Regions from separate parts of the Homo sapiens genome. Here all the other regions are reported to be linked to region 4. Evidence: microRNA targets listed by miRTarBase, many of them from high-throughput screens and not tested one by one. Region 4 holds a microRNA gene; each other region holds the end of a gene's coding sequence.

Region 1 (3,000 bases), not on the chromosome of region 4:
TCTCCAAATATATTGTACAATATATAAAAAAAGAGCCTTTTATAAGGAAAAAAATGTCCAACATTTGTGTCACCATGATCAAACTTTTGTATTATATATTCAGATATAGCAATATTTCCTATTAATATTTACTGTTTAAATGATATTTAGGCACTGCAGAATAGCTCTCTTTTCAGACATAGAGCAAATCTAATAATCTATCACTTCAAATACTCTATATGCAAGTACTTTATATCAATCTAAAGATACAATCAAGAGGTAATGCTTTAAGGCTACATATGAAGGCTACCTTGGTTATTGAAAATGTGTATAAGCAACAAAAACACTTTTGCAAAATGTAGTAGAAATGAATCATTATTGCCATCTTAGAAAGAAAAGCTATTGCACACCAACTAGACATTCAAGATGGTATCCTAAAACTTATTGCTACTGTTCTGTTAGGACAGATTATTGCTCAAAACTGCCCATTTTAAAACATCAAGAAATTCTCTCATTTTTGTTATCTTTTCAGGCAAGGCAACATCACAAAAAAATTTTAAAGTTAAACTTTTAAAGTTAAAAGTGAAATTTATTACAATACAATAAATGCAAGTGTCATTATTAAAAATGCCGGTTAAAATTATAAAGTATCTAAATAATTTTTCTAATATAAATATTGGAAATGACAACTTTAACAATTCTATATGTACACAGGACACTGAAAACATAAAATCATGAACAAGGCCAAAAAATAACGTTGCACATTAACCCTTTAGTTATTACTTTCTATTTTCCAGTCCCAGCATCATACCTGCTAATTACTCAGATCACAAGCCTCAAGGATTAAGTGTTTTGAATGTATTTCAGTTTCATACTTTAACAATGCTTAAAGACTATTGGTTGTATTCTGATCAAATGGTTCTCCTTCCCATATTTCCCTTTCTCAATAGATCTTAGACAAAAAGGTGAGCAGGGAAAACTGTGATTACAGGATCCAACATGACAGGTATACCCAATGATTCATTTAAGGGTGGCATAAAGTTATATAGAAAAGACCTACAGGACGGAAGACAAGTACATCAACACGTAGTGAAATTAAGCAGTTCACCCACTGCGTGCTTACATGGCTCCTATATCTCTTCGGGAAGAAGCCAGAGCCGTAGAGAAGTCAGGGCAAACCAGAACTGTTGAGGAGTAGGGGTGGGGGGCAGAGGGAAGGAGCTGGGGAGAAGTGCCAGATCATAAAGGAAATGTAAAAGAGTTACCTATCTGTTCTCCCCCTCCTGCTAACGCAGGGGCTGGCTCGAGCCCAGCCTCCCTGCCCGCATCTCAGTGGAGCTCTTCCCCCAGCATTGTCTTTCAGATGAAAAGATACATCTGTTCCCCACTGAGATGTTTTTTTGGGGGAGAGAGTATGTTTTGTTTTTTATTTTGATTATATATTGACAAATTATTGTATATTTTTATAGGGTACAATACGGTTTTATGATTTTTGAATATAAGGTGGAATGATTACACTAATTAACATATGATCTCAAATATTTAACTTTTTTATGAGAACATTAGAAATTTACTCTCTTAGCAATATTGAAATATACATTCAATTATTCCTATATTTAGCATGCTGTGCAAGTGATCTTTAAAAAAAAATCACACTTATTCCTCCTAACTGAGGCTTTGTACCCTTTGACTGTCTCCCAATTCTGAGAACACTTTTCATAAATTTGAGGAACTGCCTAAATATTATAGGCTTGAACATCTGAACTTGTCCTCAGCATGAAAGCAGGTGAGACTTTTTTTTTTTTTTTAAACAAATGAGCAGGTAACACCCAGAGAGGTTAAGTGGTTTAGCCACTGGAAAGATAAGGAAGTTGGGTGTGATGTTTACTTCTCTATGATGATGCTTCTCAAACTTTCATGTGCATACAACTCCTTTGGATCTCATCAAAATGTCCTGGGTCCAGAGTGGGGCTTCAGATTCTGCATTTCTAATAAGGCTCTAGGAAATGTTGAGGCTCTTGGTCTGTGGGCCACACTTTTAATAGCATGGACTACAACACAAAGAGGGATCCACCCCGGCCTTCCTGGGTCATGAGAGGCCTGCTTCAGCGTTATCTGCCTCTCCAAGCACATCCCCAAGCAAAAGGTTTCGATGCACTGCATAAGGTGGCAGCTGCCTACAAGACTGCGTTAATATATTTTCTGAGAGCACCGTGACTACATGAACAGCCAAACAAGTAACATAATTTGAGTAACATAATCTAAATTTGACAGGTCTATTTGCTGAGAATAAAACTCATCTCCTACTTATGAAGTCTTTCTTAAAGTGAACATGATATATAAAGGTATTAAAAAACCCAGCATATTAAATTTCATAGTAAAATGCCGCATGTGCACATGTATACAGATAGTATGAGTTCTAAGAAATTCAATGCACTGTAATCAGAATAAAGTGCTACCACTGCTCCCAGCTAAAATCATCTCCTCTTCCAAATATAAGGAAAAACCCTTGAATTGTAAGGAAAATGACTGCATTGCCTGCCAACACAAGGCCGCAGGCTCCCCATTTGATCTGAAAGACAAGAAAAGAAGGATTAAATCCTTACTTCCTTCATATTGTACTCTTTGCAATCCCTATTATTTTCTGCATTAGAAACATCCAATGAAATGTTACACAAAGCTGCTAAAAGGCTTAATAATGTAACAGGAGACAATGAACTGTTCAGTAATGAGTCTAATTACTTCTGTGATGCTTGTTAATTAAGTCTGGTATCATCCTTAACATGTTCCCAATTAGACATATTTCTCTACTTGTTTTTAATTGACAATGATTGCCTTAAGTAAAACTCAAGTGGTAAGATTATAAATAGTGCAATTACAATATTGGGTACTGAAAGTTCTGCACACATCAACTTCTTTCATGGAAAATAAAAATTGTAGAGTTATAAATTTGTGTGTTTCTTTTCTAGGCAAGAAAAGACTTTAAATAATAGTCTTCATACAACTGAAAACTGCTTTCCA
Region 2 (3,129 bases), not on the chromosome of region 4:
CTTCTGAGACATCATAGAATTCACAGTGGAGAAAAACCTTATGTATGCAACAAATGTGGGAAATCTTTTAGGGGTAGCTCAGATCTTATTAAACACCATCGTATTCATACTGGAGAGAAACCCTATGAATGTAGTGAATGTGGGAAAGCCTTCAGCCAGAGGTCACACCTTGCTACACACCAGAAAATCCATACTGGAGAGAAACCCTATCAGTGCAGTGAATGTGGGAATGCCTTCAGGCGGCGTTCCCTCCTTATTCAACATCGGAGACTTCATAGTGGTGAGAAACCCTATGAATGTAAGGAATGTGGGAAACTCTTCATGTGGCACACGGCTTTCCTCAAACATCAGAGACTGCATGCTGGAGAGAAACTTGAAGAATGTGAGAAAACCTTCAGCAAGGATGAGGAGCTTAGAAAAGAGCAGAGAACTCACCAGGAAAAGAAAGTTTATTGGTGTAATCAGTGTAGTAGGACCTTCCAGGGCAGCTCAGATCTCATCAGACATCAGGTAACTCATACAAGAGAGAAACCATATGAATGTAAAGAATGTGGGAAAACTCAATCAGAGCTCAGACCTTCTGAGACATCATAGAATTCACAGTGGAGAAAAACCTTACGTATGCAATAAATGTGGGGAATCTTTTAGGAGCAGCTCAGATCTTATTAAACACCATCGTGTTCATACTGGAGAGAAACCTCATGAATGTAGTGAATGTGGGAAAGTCTTTAGCCAGAGGTCCCACCTTGTCACACACCAGAAAATCCACACTGGAGAGAAGCCCTATCAGTGCACTGAATGTGAAAAAGCCTTCAGGCGGCGTTCACTCCTTATTCAACGTCGGAGAATTCATAGTGGTGAGAAACCCTATGAATGTAAGGAATGTGGGAAACTCTTCATGTGGCACACAGCTTTCCTCAAACATCAGAGACTGCATGCTGGAGAGAAACTTGAAGAACGTGAGAAAACCTTCAGCAAGGATGAGGAGCTTAGGGGAGAGCAGAAAATTCACCAAGAAGAGAAAGCTTATTGGTGTAATCAGTGTGGTAGGGCTTTCCAGGGCAGCTCAGACCTCATCGGACATCAGGTAACTCATACAGGAGAGAAACCATATGAATGTAAAGAATGTGGGAAAACTTTCAATCAGAGCTCAGACCTTCTGAGACATCATAGAATTCACAGTGGAGAAAAACCTTATGTATGCAACAAATGTGGGAAATCTTTTAGGGGCAGCTCAGATCTTATTAGACACCATCGTGTTCATACTGGAGAGAAACCCTATGAATGCCCTGAATGTTGGAAGGCCTTCAGTCAGAACTCACACCTTGTCAGTCATCAAAGAATTCATACCAGAGAGAAACCCTTTGAATGTAGCAACTGTGGTAAGGCCTTCAGTGGGTGGACAGCTTTTCTTAAGCACCAGAAACTTCACATTGGAAAGGAATTTGAAGACTGTAAGAGTCTACAAACAGGACCTATTCTAATAGGTAGCAGAAACCTAATGAATGCAGTAAAACTAGGAAAAGTCTGATGGAGACCACATCTTATTGCACTACAAATGAGTTTTATTAGAAAAAAACCATGGGAAGGTGGGAAAGCAGAGAAAATACCTACTGGATTTTTCAAACGTAAGTATAATCAAGTGGAAAAGCCAAAAGCTCTTGGACATAATCACCTTTTTTTTTTCTGTCTCAGAACTGACACTAGAATATGGTCCCAACGATACAATTTTTTAAATTATTTATTTTTTAACATACAAAGAGATGAGGTCTCACTATGTTGCCCAGGCTGGACTTGAACTCTTGGGCTCAAGCACTCCTCCCTCCTCAGCCTCCCAAAGGGTTGGGATTACCGGCATGAGCCACTGCACCAGCCCCAGGGGTCTAATTACTTGAGAATGTTTTAAGGGATGTCTATCATTATTAAAATCATTATAAATCACTTTGGCAACAACCCCAAAACTAAATTATTCATGGAAAGAGCCATTTCAATCTTGACTTCCTAGTCGAGTGACAAGTTTAAATGTGGGAAAAAACCCTGTGAAAGTAATGAGTGTAGGCCAGGTGCGGTGGCTCGTACCTGTAATCCAGCACTTTGGGAAGCCAAGGTGGGCAGATCACGAGGTCACGAGTTGATCATGAGGAGTTACTATGCCCAGCCAACATACTAAAACCCCGTCTCTACTAAAAATAACAAAAATTAGCCAGGCATGGTGGGGCACGCCTGTAGTCCCAGGTACTTGCGAGGCTAGGGCAGGAGAATCACTTGAACCTGGGAGGTGGAGGTTGCGGTGAGCCAAGATCATGCCACTGCACTCCAGCCTGGGCAACAAGTGCGAAACTCCATCTCAAAAAAAAAAAAAAGTCTAACTCTTCTGCTTGTCTTTACAATGCTGTACAGTGAGAGCTAATGTTTATAAGGATAAACAGGATACTTACAGGGATTTGAAGGTAATTTAATTCAGTGGTTTCCAACTTTTTAATCACCAAGGCCTTCTTTTTACTCCCCTATGTCCTGTGTCTTAAAAGATTATGTTTACCAAACTGCATTTATTAAAGAATTATATTTTGCTACATAAAGGCATGTACAACACAAATCATGCTTCTGACTGGCACCATGTAGGCAGACCTAGGTACTAAAATTCCAGCCCAAAGCAAATAATTTACCATTTTCATTAGTCTTTTTATTCCTTTTGTGGGCAAACATATCGTCTATGTTAGGCTTTTTGAAATATTAACTATGACTTGTAAACTCCAGATTAAAAACTAACCAATTCATCTTTGATGGAGCTTGAATCAAACTAAGGGTATTGGACTTTTGAAAGATTGAAATTTTTGTTACAGTATGGAATGTTTTTAACTGAATGTTGAAATAAAAGTTATTTAAGAATTACTTAGTGACTGTTTAGTATGTGCCAGGGGCCGTAATTAGATGGGGCTGAAGAAAGATAGTCATTGTTGAATCTTCTTCAGGTAGACCAGGTCCTCCTTGAGGTTCTCAGGCTGCATCTCCAGGTTGGCTCCGGCCAGGGTCAGCTTGTCCAGCCCCTGGTGCAGCTCCAGAGACCCAGCCTCGCTTGGTGCAGAAGTCATTGGCAGCCAGGTGGGCATCATCCACCTGTAGCCAGCA
Region 3 (3,134 bases), not on the chromosome of region 4:
TTGGCTCAAACAATCCTCCTGCCTCAGCCTCCCAAATAGCTGGGACTATAGGCATGCACCACCATGCCCAGCTGATATTTTAATTTTTTTTTTTTTTTGAGATGGACTCTTGCTCTGTTGCCCAGGCTGGAGTGCAGTGGCACAATCTCAGCTCACTGCAACCTCTGCCTCCTGGGTTCAAGCGATTCTCCTGCCTCAGCCTCCTGAGTAGTTGGGACTACAGGCTTATGCCACCATGCCCAGCTAATTTTTATATTTTCAATAGAGACGGGGTTTCACTATGTTGGCCAGGTTGGTCTCAAACTCCTGACCTCATGATCTACCCGCCTCACCCTCCCAAAGTGCTGGGATTATAGGCGTAAGCCACCATGCCGGGCCTAATTTTTAAAATTTTTTGTAGAGATGAGGTCCCACTGTATTGCCCAAGGTGGTCTCAAACTCCTGGGCTCAAGCAATCCTCCTGCCTTGGCCTCCCAAAGCACTAGGATTATAGGCATGCACCACTGCACCCAACCTTTTTCTATTACTGATTGGTTATCAGACTCACTTTTGAAAATTTAGGATTTCTAAACTTACGGCCCCACTAGCTTCACCTCAGTTGTAATGTGTCTGCTCTCTGTAAACAGGTTATCTCAGAAGCTCTTCTCAATTGTCATCCGTCATTACCTTTTTTTGATAAAATTCAAGACCTGGAAAGGACCTGGAGGGTCATAGTTGTCCTTTCATGTTGCTATGAAGTGCTGGAAGTGAAAGGGACCTCCAAGACATTCTAATCTTCTCTTCCTCCATTTTATAGGGAGAAAACCAAGCCACTGGCCCCGTTACACAGCAAGTTAGTAGTAAGACTGAGATTCGAACCCTGGTCAAACAGACTTTCCATTTTGTTCCACTGACTCAATCTTCTCTTTTACACTTGAATCAGACTTTTAGTTTTATTGTAGTTTTTGAGTCCATAGCTGTCTTCCTGTACTGTCTTGACTCTTTGACTAAACTGATTTCACATCTTTAAAATTATGCTTTCCTTTTAGGCTCATTTTTAGCTCAGCTGTTGACAGCTATTTTTAAATGTAACATGACATAATATATTTCCTAAATAATTTAAAATAATCTAGCTTGAGCTGCTCTGAAGGTTAGTCAGTTGGTGGTGTGCATAGAGGTAGAGCCTTCCCCCACTCTCAAGGATGCTGTGAGGGGTATTCCTACCATGTGGTGAGTTGGGAGGTTTTCCTGAGGTCCTTTTCCATCCTGAGACTCTGGTTTTCCATTTTGTTTCTCACAGGCCAGGGCTTTGACCGACACTTGTTTGCTCTGCGGCATCTGGCAGCAGCCAAAGGGATCATCTTGCCTGAGCTCTACCTGGACCCTGCATACGGGCAGATAAACCACAATGTCCTGTCCACGAGCACACTGAGCAGCCCAGCAGTGAACCTTGGGGGCTTTGCCCCTGTGGTCTCTGATGGCTTTGGTGTTGGGTATGCTGTTCATGACAACTGGATAGGCTGCAATGTCTCTTCCTACCCAGGCCGCAATGCCCGGGAGTTTCTCCAATGTGTGGAGAAGGCCTTAGAAGACATGTTTGATGCCTTAGAAGGCAAATCCATCAAAAGTTAACTTCTGGGCAGATGAAAAGCTACCATCACTTCCTCATCATGAAAACTGGGAGGCCGGGCATGGTGGCTCATGCCTGTAATCCCAGCATTTTGAGAGGCTGAGGCGGGTGGATCACTTGAGGTCAGGAGTTTGAGACCAACCTGGCCAACATGGTGAAACCTTGTCTCTACTAAAAATACAAAAATTAGCTGGGTGTGGTGGCATGTGCCTATAATCCCAGCTACTTGGGAGGTTGAAGCAGAATTGCTTGAACCCAGGAGGTGGAGGTTGCAGTGAGCTGAGATCACACCACTGCACTCCGGCCTGGGCGACAGAGCGAGACTGTCTCAAAAAAACAAAAAAGAAAAAAAAACTGGGGCCTGTGTAGCCAGTGGGTGCTATTCTGTGAAACTAATCATAAGCTGCCTAGGCAGCCAGCTACAGGCTTGAGCTTTAAATTCATGGTTTTAAAGCTAAACGTAATTTCCACTTGGGACTAGATCACAACTGAAGATAACAAGAGATTTAAGTTTTAAGGGCATTTAATCAGGAGGAAAGGTTTGGAAAACTAACTCAGGTGTATTTATTGTTTAAGCAGAAATAAAGTTTAATTTTTGCTTGAAGATGGTTCTTAATTTCTTTTAACCTAATTCCTAATCCTCACAAAGATCTTTCCAACAGCAAGTTCAGTAAGTTCAGGTAACAGTACGTCACCATTGGCTTCTGGCTCATTGAGTGATGGTGGGATCGCGGTTTCATCTCTGTAAACTTGCCCTTGACTGGGGAGATACCATCTCCTTAAAAATACTCTTCATTTTCCTAAGGAGTGAACTGCTGCTGCACGAATTCTTATTTGTGGAGGGAGTAGCTGCCTCCTTACTTCACCTTCATGCACCAGTGCAGCGTGAACAGGGGCTTTATTGATGGGGCTTGGGAAGCTGTAATAAAGTCCAGCATGCAGATTGTGAAGGTTTCGTATAGCCACCAGGAGACAAGGGTCAAAGGAACGAGCCTCTGTGGGCTCTGCTGCTTAGAGTACTTTGTCCTTTCTCAGTTCTTAAGGGCAACTGGGAAGGAAGAGGGATCAGCACTTCACAAACTGGTGGGTGACCTCATAGATTCCCACAGACTCCTGGGCCTTTTCATCATAGTCAGTCCAGTCCTGGGAAACAAAATGGCATTGTTAGCCTCACAACGCAGAATGCAGCCATGTGGAGAGCAGAAAACTGGGACTTAAAAGGCCCAGCTCAGGCTCTGACTCAAATAATCATGAACATGTATGACCCTGAACAGAGCCAGATAGCTCAGGCCTGAATTCTAGCTCTTTCAGTTGTATGACTGTGGGCAAATCACTTAACTTCTCTGAGTCCCTTCTCCGAGTCCTGTCTTCTATTTAAAAAAAACAAAAACAAAAAAAGGACAATGGAGTTCATATTGAATGTTGAAAGAATCAAATGAGGTAACACATTTAAAAGCACTCAGCAGCCGGGCGTGGTGGCTCATGCCTGTAATCCCAGCACTTTGGGAGGCCAAGGCAGGTGGAT
Region 4 (3,134 bases):
TGAATAAACACATGCTAACACCAGGAATCCAAGGGTCTTTCCATTGGCAAGAATCCCTAAAGGACACCAATGGACTAAGAGAGCAGTGGGGCTTAGAGGTCCCAGCAGCAAGTCCTGTAGCCACACTGGGTGCTCTGGGGCCTCCTTCCTGTGGACTGGCCTTCCCTCAAGTGGACAGTGAGGTCCAAAAGTCACTCCAAGGATGGGCTAGGTATGGAGAGTGGGTAGACCAGATGACCCACATCTACATTAGACATTGACTTTGCTGACGGTCATTCTTTCATGTATCTGGGAGATGCACTGACCACGAGACCTCTTCTCAGAGGCTGGCATCATGCTGGGCAGACCTGCCGGAGTAGCAGCCCATGGATGCTTTGTGATAAGTAGGGCCCATCAAGGGAGGCCCTTTGTTCTTTTCTTTTTTTTTTAACCTATTGTGTTGAGACAGGGGTCTCTGTCAGCCAGGCTGAAGTGCAGTGGCACAATCTTGGCTCACTACAACCTCCCAACTCCCGGGCTCAAGTGATCCTCCAGCCTCAACCTCCTAAGTACTGGGACCACAGGCGCACACCATGACACCCAGCTAATTTTTGTATTTTTTGCAGAGATGGGGTTTCGCCAAGTTGCCCACGCTAGTTTCGAACTCCTGGGCTTAAGCCATCCACCGTCTCAGCCTCCCAAAGGGCTGGGGTTACAAGCGTGAGCCACCGTGCCCGGCCAAGGTAGGCCCTTTTTGCTAGGCAGAACAGGTGGTCTGAAGAGAAAACCCTATATCATCTCCAAAGCCAGCATCTCTTCCAGAAAGTTCTTGGAAGGAAGCATGAGATGAGGAGGGTCAGAGAACCAGGTCACAAACAGCAAGACAGAGGCACATGCCCTGTGGTCAACCATCCACACCCCAGGGCTATCCTGGCCATCTAACAGGTTGCTGGAGTCAGCCTTGTTCCCAAGAAGGCTTCCCAGGCAGGATTTGCTCCCCAGAGAGAGTCTGCCCTTGTATAATCATTGCAAGTAAAGCAAATGCGTGAAGGATTACCTCTCTTCAAGTAGCAAATGATGGCAGTGACAGGAAGGCCATTTCCTCTGTGACTAAGTTGCCACCAGCTCCAGGAGCAAGCCTTAGAGACACAGATGGGATCTGCATGGTGAGAGCAGCACACCGAGGTGTGAAGTGCAGGCCCGTGGGTGAATCACACATCTATTCCTTCCATAGCCCCTGAAGCAGTGCCCCTTCCTGAAATTGACAGCCCACTCAGGTATTCTCTAAGGTACAACTAGTCACAGTAAAAGAGGTTCATTCCAGAAAATGCATTGCAATCATGGTAAACATACAGAGAACAAACTTCATTCAAGGTCAATGAGGCAATACTGAGAACACAGCCTTGTAACAACACATTATGTGTGCACCAAGGGCAGTGAGCAAACAGCAGAGAAGCTGACGGCGTATTTCATACAAAGTACAATTCTGTGTCTGTCCGTCCTGTACCCAGGAGGGGTACAGATAACATCTCCTCTTCCATGGCGACTTCACGTCCTCCGAGGTTTTCAAAGCAGCATTTGATACTGAAAACGTGGATTTTCCTCTATGATTAATCATAAATAATGTACTCATAGAAGGAGAATCTACCTTTTAAATACCAAAGAAGGATTCCATCCAGGAAAGCGTGCACCTGTGCTTGAGTCATCAGAAAAGAAAGTCACATGAGGCAGACGAGCTTCCAGGGAAGAACTGGCACCACGAGACCCACAATTTAATCTTCACCAAGTTGGCGTCTCGAGATGGTTCTCGGGCATACCCCGTTCATTCAGATACGACGTGCGGCCTACCATCTTTGCACCTACTCAGGCCCTACGGTCTCTTCCAGAAACATTTCCAAAGCAGCATTTGATACTGAAAACATGGATTTTCCTCTATGATTAACCAGGAATCACGTAAACATAGAAGGAATATCCACGTTTTAAATACCAAAGAAGGACTGGGCTCTGGAAAGGACAAATCTGAACACAGTTCATGGAAAATGGAAGCAAGACAGTAAAGCAACCGTTTTCAGTCCCGTAGCATAGCTGTGACAACACACCACAGCCTGTGCACCAAGCTGGCTCCTCAGCGAAAGGGGGCTTCTAAAGGTGATGGTCAGCAGACATATGGCACGAACTCAGCACATGTTCTGCGGCCCACCATCTTTCCACTTACCCTGGAGGGCTCAGCCCCACCTCACGTCCCTGATGGTGGCTTCAGTCCAGCCATGATCCCAAGGCAGCATTTGATACTGAAAACGTGGATTTTCCTCTATGATTAACCATCAAACACGTAACCATAGAAGGAAAATCTACCTTTTAAATACCAAAGAAGGTTTCATCCCGGAAAGCACGAACCTAAGTACAATCCATCAAACACAAAAGTAACATAGCACAGAGGAGAGCATTCGGCCTCATGGAGAAAATGACGACGGAGCCCAGCCGCTTGGCCGAGCGGGCAGCTTGCGAGAGGGGTCTCCTCAAGGCGGGTGGGTGGTCCGCAGACATATGGCACGAATTCAGCACATGTTCTGAGGTCCACCGACTTTCCACTTACCCTGGAGTGGGGGGGGGGACTTTATTGTCTCTTCCCTGATGGTGGTTTCAGTCCAGGAATGTTTCCAAGCAGCATTTGATACTGAAAACGTGGAATTTCCTCTATGTTTAACCATAAATAACATAAACATAGAAGGAATATCCACCTTTTAAATACCAAAGAAGGATTGAGTCCTGGAAAGCATGAACCTAAGCACAATCTATCAAAATTAAAGACAGCACAGGATAGGTGCAGTCGGCAGGGGCCTCCCGGGCTAGCGGCAGTGACATGGGCCCTGCGGAGGACGCATGTCCCAGGACAGACCTTGCTAACAAGAGCTTAGGTTCTGGGATTCACCTTCCATCACTCTCCGCATGGGGGAGGGAGCTAACCTTCCTCTCAGAAATGTTCAGAAATGTTTTAAAAGCAGCCTTAGATACTGAAAATGCGGATTTTCCTCTATGATTCACCATAAATCCTGTAAGCATAGAAGGAACATCCACCTTTTAGATGGGAAAAGTGGGAACAGCCCTGGAGAGCACAAACGCAAACATGATTCATGAAAGACAGAAGGTAACAG

The links. Region 4 holds the annotated microRNA hsa-miR-376a-3p (AUCAUAGAGGAAAAUCCACGU, at 2,277-2,297, opposite strand). A microRNA usually pairs through its seed, bases 2 to 8, with sites in the 3' UTR of a target mRNA and lowers its output. Matches are read on the target gene's strand: a 7mer-m8 pairs with bases 2 to 8, a 7mer-A1 pairs with bases 2 to 7 and ends in A, and an 8mer does both.
Region 1: miRTarBase lists LEPROT as a target of hsa-miR-376a-3p. Seed matches in the 3' UTR shown: 7mer-A1 at 2,351-2,357.
Region 2: the mRNA of ZNF594 is a reported target of hsa-miR-376a-3p. Seed matches in the 3' UTR shown: 7mer-A1 at 868-874 and 7mer-A1 at 1,279-1,285.
Region 3: miRTarBase lists CZIB as a target of hsa-miR-376a-3p. The part of its 3' UTR that is shown has no 7-base or 8-base seed match.

What each region holds. Positions count from the first base shown.
Region 1 is chr1:65,431,354-65,434,353 of GRCh38, reverse strand. It overlaps LEPROT (leptin receptor overlapping transcript), which reads right to left. Exons shown (of 4, transcript NM_017526.5): 4 at 1-2,551. The coding sequence ends at 2,435. All of the region lies in intron 2 of LEPR (leptin receptor), which reads right to left. Among named protein-coding and RNA genes, the nearest start is that of LEPROT, 12 kb to the right of the region's middle.
Region 2 is chr17:5,179,298-5,182,426 of GRCh38, reverse strand. It overlaps ZNF594 (zinc finger protein 594), which reads left to right. Exons shown (of 2, transcript NM_032530.2): 2 at 1-2,892. The coding sequence ends at 594. Among named protein-coding and RNA genes, the nearest start is that of ZNF594, 11 kb to the left of the region's middle.
Region 3 is chr1:53,211,985-53,215,118 of GRCh38, forward strand. It overlaps CZIB (CXXC motif containing zinc binding protein), which reads right to left. Exons shown (of 8, transcript NM_017887.3): 8 at 2,115-2,752. The coding sequence ends at 2,675. CPT2 (carnitine palmitoyltransferase 2) reads left to right here. Exons shown (of 5, transcript NM_000098.3): 5 at 1,280-2,213. The coding sequence ends at 1,611. Among named protein-coding and RNA genes, the nearest start is that of CZIB-DT, 6.8 kb to the right of the region's middle.
Region 4 is chr14:101,039,281-101,042,414 of GRCh38, reverse strand. It overlaps MIR376A2 (microRNA 376a-2), which reads right to left and starts at 2,346; the gene lies at 2,267-2,346. It overlaps MIR376C (microRNA 376c), which reads right to left and starts at 2,725; the gene lies at 2,660-2,725. MIR654 (microRNA 654) reads right to left here and starts at 2,196; the gene lies at 2,116-2,196. It overlaps MIR376B (microRNA 376b), which reads right to left and starts at 1,979; the gene lies at 1,880-1,979. It also overlaps MIR376A1 and MIR300.